2 separate regions of the Homo sapiens genome follow, and region 2 is reported to be linked to region 1. The links are microRNA targets in miRTarBase. Many come from high-throughput screens and were not tested one by one. Region 1 holds a microRNA gene; the other region holds the end of a gene's coding sequence.

Region 1 (4,389 bases):
TTGGGAGGTGGAGGCTGCAGTGAGCCAAGATCGTGCCACTATACTCCAGTCTGGGCAACAGAGCGAGACTCCATCTCAAAAACAAAACAAAACAAAAAAACTCTTCCAGGGTTTCCTGCATGGTCTGGCCCCAAGCCATTCTCATCTCAGGCCACTCTGCTCCTTAAGTTCCATTTCTGGGAGTCCTTAAACAGGTAAAGCCCTTTCCTGTTTTATCTTGGGGCTCTGGACGAGTTGTTCTTTCTGTTTACAAAGCCACACCCCACCAGAGCTGCCTGTCTTGATCTGTTAACCAAGTGTAGGCTATTTTTTGGTTTCCCTTCCTGCTCCACCCCCAACACCTGGGGAAAGGCTAGGTAGCATGTTGTTTGAGGGGCTCTGCCTTCAGGCTGCTTGAGTTCAAATCCTGGATCTACCACTGGCTAGCTGCTCTGTGACTTTGGGCAAGTTACATAACATAATTATTTCCCCATCTATAATTTGGAGATGATTAAATATATTTTGAGGATTAGATTTGTTAGCAGATGGTAAGTACGTGAAACAGCAATAGAAGTTCTCCTTTTAGCATATACTCCAATTTTCTTCTACTTATTTGTTTGCCAAGTTTGAGCCTGTTACCTTGAGATTGCTATGGTTGCCTTCTCAACCTCCCCAACTCCTACCCTCCAGCTGATTATGGTCTACTTATTGGACTCTGTAAATGAATAAAGAGGGAGCATGAGGAAAGGAGGTAGTCCTTCTAGCTTTAGGAGAGGCCACGGGAGTGAGCTTGTTGAACAAGACATGGTCGTGGCTTCTCTTTAAGCTTACGGTTTAGGCGGACACAGATGATGAACACACACCGGATTAGTGTGGCTTTAAGAAAGGGAATCCCAGGGCCTTAGGCCAACCCTGGAGTAACCTCGATGCCCTCTCCAGAAGGGCACCCGAGGAAGGGTCTAGGGCCCAAGAGCACCAAAATCACCAACGCCGGGGATTGGTAGGTAGCCTGAAAAATCTAATTCAGAGAAGGATGCTCCGCGCGCAGACATGGCTTATCCCCGTGCTACTGCATGAGCCACACCTAGGCCGGCCCCGGACACCGACAGCCAATGGCCGGGCCCGTCCCGCCCCATCCGGGATTGGCTGTGCGTGCCGCGGCCCTCCACCCCGCCCCGCTCAGGATCTTCCCGGGATTGGCTGAGCTACCCGACCTCTCCAGGGGATCGGCTGCGCGCCCCGCCCTTGCCCAGAGTCTTCCCGGGATTGGCTGCGGGCCTCGCGACCCTCCTGCTTCCCTCCCCGCCCCGCGCCGCCTCTCTGGTTTGTGCGCCCGTCGCAGGTCGCAGGCCTCTTTGTCAGCTGGAGTTGCGCGGTGAGTGCATCTCCAGTCTTCGGCTTTCGGTCTCCCGCGGGGAGGGCGCCCGGCCGGCCCGTGGGTCCGATCAGGGGCTGGGCTCGCCCGGTGTCCCCACGAGCTTTGCCCGCCTCGAGCTCCTCTGCTCCCGGCGGCCAGAACGGAGGGGTAGAGCAGCCCTCGGCGGCCCGGGGGGCGGGCGGCGGTGCCCGTCCCGGGGCTGCGCGAGGCACAGGCGCCGCGCCCAGCGGAACAGCCGGAGGTTCCCGGCGCAGGTCTGGGCACCGTAACAATTTTGCGCTTTGCTTCCCCAGGGCTGACGCGCCACTATGTAGCGGGTTTCGGGCGGGCCACGCGTGCGGGACAGGAACCCAACCCCAGCCGACCTTGAGCTCCAGGAGTTCGTCTCTTACGTCTGCGGAAGTGCAGCTGCCTCAGTTCTTAGCGCAGGTATGTTCCTAGCCTTGAGCGGGGTGGGGGAAGGAATGAGTCAGCCTGGAGCACGTGGCCAGTGGGACCGGAGGGTTCCCCGGCGTCTGTTTGTCGCCAAGGTCCGAATCCGGCTCCCCTTAACTGGAAGGAAACATCCATGTAGGGGCTCACCAAACAAAACAGCTGTGTTTCTAGTGTGGTTTCAGACTTAGAGAAGCAGAGATCCACGAGGTATTGAGAGCAACGCGGAAAATAGTAGTGAACCCTGTAAAAATCAAAGAAAAAAAATCACAAAGCACCCTTTCCTGTGCCCTTTTAAGGTTGACCCAGTGCTTTAAGAGGCTAACACAGAAGGGTAAAGTAAGTCTCCATAAAACCCAGAGAAGAGACTGGAAAGCTCCTCTTTGGATCCTGTCTGGAGTCACAACTGAACCAGAAAAAGTTTCGTTACAACTTGAGCGCCTTTGTGATTTTCTTTACAGTTTATAGAACAAGCAATACATTTCAGTTTTCTTTGGTTAAAACGTCATTTTAAAACTTTTCTTTCTATAGGTTGACAACTACAGGCACAAGCCATTGAAGCTGGAATGTCCTGTTGCTGGTATTTCAATTGACTTAAGCCAACTATCCCTTCAGTTACAATAGGAAAGTGCCTCTAATAAGGCCAAATATGCGTACTAACTTGTAGCAACCACGTGTCCGTGCAGTGCCACAGGAGCTAGAGCAGTGACAATGCTGGTGGCAACAGGGCAGTGTAGCAGGTGCTTCATGTTCACCTTTTCAACCTTTTCATTTAATTGTCACAACTCGGAGGTGGATTCTGTTAGGGACAGGCTGCCCCAGGACCACTCCGCCCCCGCTAACTCAATGCAGCTGACCCTTACCCTGAATACTCTGCAGCTGCATTCCTGAACCGTTATCTAGGCGCTATAGCAAGGTCACCAGACTTGCTACACCGAAGCCCTCTGGGTGGCACGGGGGAGGTCATGAGAAACGTGGATTACACCCCCTTGTAAATTCCTATTTTCACAAGATAATATATTGTAAGCCGGTCATGAGATTATATGTGGTAAAGTTAATTGACTAACAACCCCAGGGTCTCTCTCCCCCATATAAACCCCTCATTTTGTAAGCTCAGGGCTGCCACCTCCGACTGGTGGAGAAGCCTGGCAGGTTAATAAACTTACTTGGCCTGACCTTGGGTCTCTTGTCTTTTCTCTCGGCTAACCTTACAGATTCTATTCTCCCATTTCACAGGTAAAGAAATGGATTAGTGATAACTCAAGTTTCATCACCTGTGAGTATCTCTGAATGAGAGGCTTCACATGTATAACTTTTAGGCAATGTGACTTCTGGAAAGTCACTTGTCTCTTGAGATTTGGTGTCCTGGTGTAACAGTTAAGAATTATTTCAACCAAACTAGGAAAGGACCACAGTCGAGCTGTTAAGAATATAAACTCTTCATATTATTTCATTGCATTGAGCCTAAGAAGGTTCACAAAATTTGGCACAGAAGGAGTATCTGTCAGCATATTCTGTTTTTTTGTGTGTGTCTATGTAGCAAGTATTAATATTTATCTTGGAGTCATTCTTAATTCATAGCATTGTTCTTACCTTTTTATCTAAACTTTTATGTTCCATATTGTAAAGTCTAGCCTCATAAATTTAGGTAATTGCTCACAAGTTTGGATAATGTTGAATTGTAATCCCGATGTTAGAGGAGGGGCCTGGTGGGACGTGATTGGATGAAAAGGGTGGATTTCCCTCTTGCTGTTCCTTGTGATAGTGAGTTCTCATGAGATCTGGTTGTTTAGATGTGTAGTGTGGCTGGGGCAGTGGCTCATGCCTGTAATCCCAGCACTTGGGAAGGCCAAGGCAGGGGGATCACTTGAGGTCAGGAGTTAAGACTATCTTGGGCAACATAGTAAGACCTCGTCTCTACAAAAAATGAGGCAGAAGGATTGCTTGAGCCCAAGAGGTTGAGACTGCACTGAGCCATGATCTTGTCACCGTGCTCCAGCCTGAAAAGAAAAATTAATAAAAATAAAGGTTATGCAATTGTGCACATGTTATCTCAAGGCAGAGGCAGAAGAATGGCAGAGTTTAGATTAAAAGTGTGGCACCTCCCCTTCCTCCTACTCTGGCCATGTGCTTCCTGTTAGACATACCCCATGATTGTAAGTTTCCTGAAGCCTCAGCAGCCATGCTCCCTGTGCAGCCTGCTGAACCATGAGACAAACCTTTTCTTTATAAATTACCCAGTCTCAGTTCTTTATAGCAATGTGAGAACAGACTAGTACAAAAAATACATTCAACTAATGTGTTAGCTGGCTATAATTGCTAAGGGGGTAAGGAAAGGGAGATGACTTAACATGGCCGGCAAGGGAGGCCTCACTCAACATGAAAGAGCTGAGGGAGATGCCATGGCCTTATCTATAGTTGAGGGAAGAGCATTCTAGGCAGAGGGAAAACTAGTGCAAAGGCCCTGAGGATAGTTGTGTTTAAAGGTTTGGAGAAGCAGTGAAGCTGTAGAGAAGTGCCCTTAAGGAGCGGAGGACTTTATGTCTGTAGTAGTGGAAAGTTGGTTATTTTCAAACTATGGTAAAATGGCAACGTGCTCT
Region 2 (4,389 bases), not on the chromosome of region 1:
GGTGGTTAGGGACTCGAGGGGACCCTGCACGGGAAGAGGTGGCCGGTGCAGAGGACCTTCCTCATGCGGGTGGAGAGGACCACGGCGAGGAGCCCAACTACCCTTCTGTCTTTCAACGACAAAAGCGAATTTCTGGCAGGCGTGTAGCCCCGCCGCGGGACGCAGCAGACCCACCCAAATACGTGCTTGTGCGGGTGGAGGATTATCAGGTAACACAAGAAGTGTTGCAGACCTCCTGGGCCAAGGGTCGCATGACCACGAGGACTGAGGAGCACTTCGTGACCGCGCTCACTTTTCGCAGCAGTAGAGAGGGACAGCCTGGGGAACGCTGGGGCCCTGCTGAATCCCGGGCTCTCCAGGCACGAACAGGGGCATCCCGCGTCCACGCCGCGGGGAGGAGGGTTTCACCGTCTCCAGGGACTTGGCTCGAGGAAATTAAACTCTAATGAGTAGCTCGAGAAATGTTCCGGGATGGTGGATGAGCGATCATCCTTAAAAGAAAATGCTATTCTGGGAGCTCCAACCTGCAATTAACCTACAGAAGGAACCTTTTGAGAGGCTGGTGCAGCGCTTCGGGGAGGCAGATTAAGAACTGTAAGCAGCATAATACCTCCTTTGTGGCTTGAATTCCTTCGCTGTCTGGGGACCTAAGTCATTCAGAAGAGGTGGAGAAAAGATATTTTCAGATTGGCAGAATGTGGGAGTTTTGAAATGAGAAAACCTGTTGTTAATTTGCATTTTGGAATAACTCTCAATTGATCTCTTTTCTGTTCCCCGCCCCCCTCTTGTTTCTCTTTAGGACCTAGAAACAGAAGTGAAGTTTGAAGTCTGCTCTCTGCAAAGAGGGTGGGAGTGGGTGGAGAAGAGGCTTGTTTTAAAAGCCAAAAACAGAAAGTAAAAAGAAATGGGAAAGTAAAACCAAAGCAGCAAGTGACTCTCTTCTGATGTGCACTTTTCATTTTTCTCCCCCACATTTCAGTGTTAGAAAGAAAACGAGAGGAGCTAGGGAAAGAAGGAGTTGGGGACAGAAGACTAAGATTTCAACGTGAAATTCCATTTACAAAGGCTTTACTGCAAACAATAGCTAATTTAGTCCTGTAAACATGCATTTATCATACATTTTAATTTTAATATTAAAAATACTGCATGTAAATGTTCTGAACTAAAGGTAGATAGCAATATGTAGTTTGCCATAAAATGAATGCATGTCTTATTCTTTTCCATAGTTCTTCATTAATGAGACTTGTAGTCAAGAATAGATTGAAGATACCATTCTCCTTGTGTAGTTCAAAAAAATCTCCTCTGGTAATACTGAAACAACTAATTTTTCTTATTTTGTTTGTTCCTCTTTATTATTAAATACTATGTGAATTAACTCTTTAGTAGTTGGCCTGGTTGAAGCTCTGTGAGGAGCAAAGCAGCCCTCTCCAGGTGAACTGCTTGACTTTACCACCTGAAGGAGTATTTACTGCAAGAATTAACAAAGCAGGTAGGACTCTGGCTTTTGATGAGCAAATAGTTGAAAAGTGCCTCCTTCCCCAGTCTTCCCTTTTGCCTTCATTTTTAGTTTAGAGCTTGAAGTGTTCTCAAAAGATCATCTGATCTACCTCTTGCCTCCTGGCAGGCCAGATAGATAAGATGCCCCTGTTTTACTCATGAGCCAACCTAGGCCTAGAGGTCTTGTAGCATGTCTAAGTCACACAGCTAGTAATTGCATATGCTTACTAAGTGGATGAAGAATGTGATAATCTCCCTCCTAAAGGTTTGGGGCAGCCTTTAGAGGATTTATTTGACCCTTACTTAGGGGTCAAAAGATGCCTGAGGATATCCTAGGTTTTCTTTCTTTTTCTATTTTTTTCTTTTTTTTGAGACAGAGTTTCTCTCTTGTTGCCCAGACTGCAGTGCAACGGCACGATCTTGGCTCACCACAACCTCTACCTCCAGGGTTCAAGCGATGCTCCTACCTCAGCCTCCTCAGTAGCTGGGATTACAGGCATGTGCCATCACCCCGGCTAATTCTGTATTTTTAGTAGAGATGGGGTTTCTCCATGTTGGCCAGGCTGGTCTTGAACTCCCAACCTCAGGTGATCCTCCTGCCTCCGCCTCCCAAAGTGCTGGGATTACAGGTATGAGCCACCATGCCTGGCCAATATCTTAGGTTTTCTAACTCATGTTTATGAGAAGTACTAGAATCACCTTAATGTTCCTGAATTCTGCAAGGCCTCTTGGCTGGAGAATCATCACTAGCAGTTCTTAGGCCTGTGAGACCCTCACTTGGGAGAGGAATTCAGCATCTGAGCTCATCTGTGTTCAAAATTGCTTGACAGGTAGAAAAGATTCATCCCTTAAAATGAATCTCTTTTCCTTAACAACCCTCCCTGACTCCAGTGGGAGATTAACTTACTTGGCATGTAAGTTTCAGACCTGAGCTTATTAATTTGGTTGAATCATCACATGTCCCAGGTGACTAATCATTGAATATAGAGAACAAAAAAAGTCTCTTTCACAATAACCAAAAATGGTAAGTAGCATCACTCAGCTGCCTTCTCTGGAGGCAATTTCTGGCGTTCAGCTGCTTGGGTTCAAAACTGGCTCTACCTCTTTATTAACTTGTGTCCTTGGGCAAGTTGCCTTATCTCTGTGTGCCTCTGTATCCTGATTTGTTAAGTGGGGACAATAAATAGTATCAACTTCATAGAGGGTTTTTTTTTTTTAGGGTTAAGTTAAATGAAAATACTTAGAACCCTGCCTGTCATACAATAAATCCTCAAAGTTAGTTACATTTTTTATTATTAGCACGGTTATTGTTTAGTTCACTTTTCATCCTAACTAGGCTTTAGTCTTTTGTTTAGTAACAAAAAGCAGAAATTGTATAACACAAGAAAGCTAATGAAAGTCAAGCCGGTGGTTTTTAATAAGACTCTTCTCTACTCCTGAAAGAAAGGACTTATTTCTAGCTTTTCCTAACCTTTAATGGATCAGTAAGTATATTTCTTAAATTCTTTAGAAATGACCTTCACATCTTCTGTAGGGACTCATGGTAAAGCTCAAAGGACTAAGGTACACTATCCTTAACAGTCACTGAAAAGAGTTTACATACCTCCTAGTTCTGGGCAGATGGGAGCTTTGAATACTTTCTTTGACCTGTCAGGTTAGTTTGTTTTCCCTCTGGGATTTTAAATCTGATGCCCTGTTGTCTAGAAAAGCAGAATAGACACAATTTGTTTTCATTTTGTCTTTCAGCCAAAAACGTATTTAGTCAAGTTAGCTTAACTCCTTTAAACCAAATATGTTTGAGTTAATTTTGTTTTGTTTTTGAGACAGAGTCTTGCTCTGTCGCCCAGGCTGGAGTGCAGTGGCACGATCTCTGCTCACTCCAAGCTCCGCCTCCCATGTTCACACCATTCTCCTGCCTCAGCCTCCTGAGTAGCTGGGACTACATGCGCCCGCCACCATGCCTGGCTAGTTTTTTTGTATTTTTAGTAGAGACGGGGTTTCACCGTGTTAGCCAGGATGATCTCGATCTCCTTGACCTTGTGATGCGCCCGCCTCGGCCTCCCAAAGTGGTGGGATTACAGGCCTGAGCCACCATGCCCGGCCTGTTTGAGTTAATTTTAAGTGATTTTTTTTTTCCTTTTCTCACTGTTTCAAGCAATGAAAATTTATTTTTAAAGTGCTTACTCAACTTCCCTATTAACTGCCTAGAACATGTTTATAGATTTCATTTAATATAGAGTTCCTTTTCATTGGAAACAAAAAGTAGTAAGTCCAAATACTGTTGAATTTGCTTCACAGGTGTTCCTGATCCAAGCAGAACCCTGTTATTTGAAGAGCCTGAGAAATCTTATCCCGTTTACAAATGTCCTGGGAGTGCATCCAAAGTGAAACTTGGGCATCCTCAATACTAAGAAATCTCTGAGAATGACTGGATCTTGGCTCTTTGATCTTACCTCTACTCCTCTGAAAAACATGATTATCTAAAATTGTGTTAGGTGGATGAACCGCATCAAAGACTTCCAGAAGCCACTCCAGTGACCATAAGATAAATGTCAGAATCGCATAACCCCCAGGATCAGGCAAGTGTTATCCTCTCTTAAAACTCTTTGTTTACAACCATGATCTCCTTTTGGGAATCATTACATTTGACTTACTGCTTATTTTTGTTGGATGTTACCAGTGCTTGGTGATAAAACTTGATGTGGCTCTTTGCTTTGAAAAAGAAAAAAACTTTTTATTAAAAGAAACAGTTGTATACACTGCATAAAAATTGGGAAAATATTATGAAGAAAAAGAAGATATAATAAAGGAAACAAAAATTTACAGATGACCCCAAATCTCTTTTAATATTTGGCAAGTTTCAAGCATGAATTTTTTGTTTTGTTTTGTTTT

What was found. The annotated mature microRNA hsa-miR-4449 reads CGUCCCGGGGCUGCGCGAGGCA and lies in region 1 at 1,547-1,568, shown strand. An mRNA with a match to its seed (bases 2 to 7 or 8) in the 3' UTR can be bound and repressed. Matches are read on the target gene's strand: a 7mer-m8 pairs with bases 2 to 8, a 7mer-A1 pairs with bases 2 to 7 and ends in A, and an 8mer does both.
Region 2: miRTarBase lists C6orf141 as a target of hsa-miR-4449. The part of its 3' UTR that is shown has no 7-base or 8-base seed match.

The regions. Positions count from the first base shown.
Region 1 is chr4:52,711,174-52,715,562 of GRCh38, forward strand. MIR4449 (microRNA 4449) reads left to right here and starts at 1,509; the gene lies at 1,509-1,574. It overlaps DANCR (differentiation antagonizing non-protein coding RNA), which reads left to right and starts at 1,221. Exons shown (of 5, transcript NR_145129.1): 1 at 1,221-1,354; 2 at 1,651-1,786; 3 at 2,321-2,369; 4 at 3,026-3,065. SNORA26 (small nucleolar RNA, H/ACA box 26) reads left to right here and starts at 2,076; the gene lies at 2,076-2,197. RefSeq lists silencers at 1,027-1,860, 1,035-1,604 and an enhancer at 1,855-1,904.
Region 2 is chr6:49,551,082-49,555,470 of GRCh38, forward strand. C6orf141 (chromosome 6 open reading frame 141) reads left to right here. Exons shown (of 1, transcript NM_001145652.2): 1 at 1-1,014. The coding sequence ends at 446. Among named protein-coding and RNA genes, the nearest start is that of C6orf141, 2.6 kb to the left of the region's middle. RefSeq lists enhancers at 302-371, 388-907.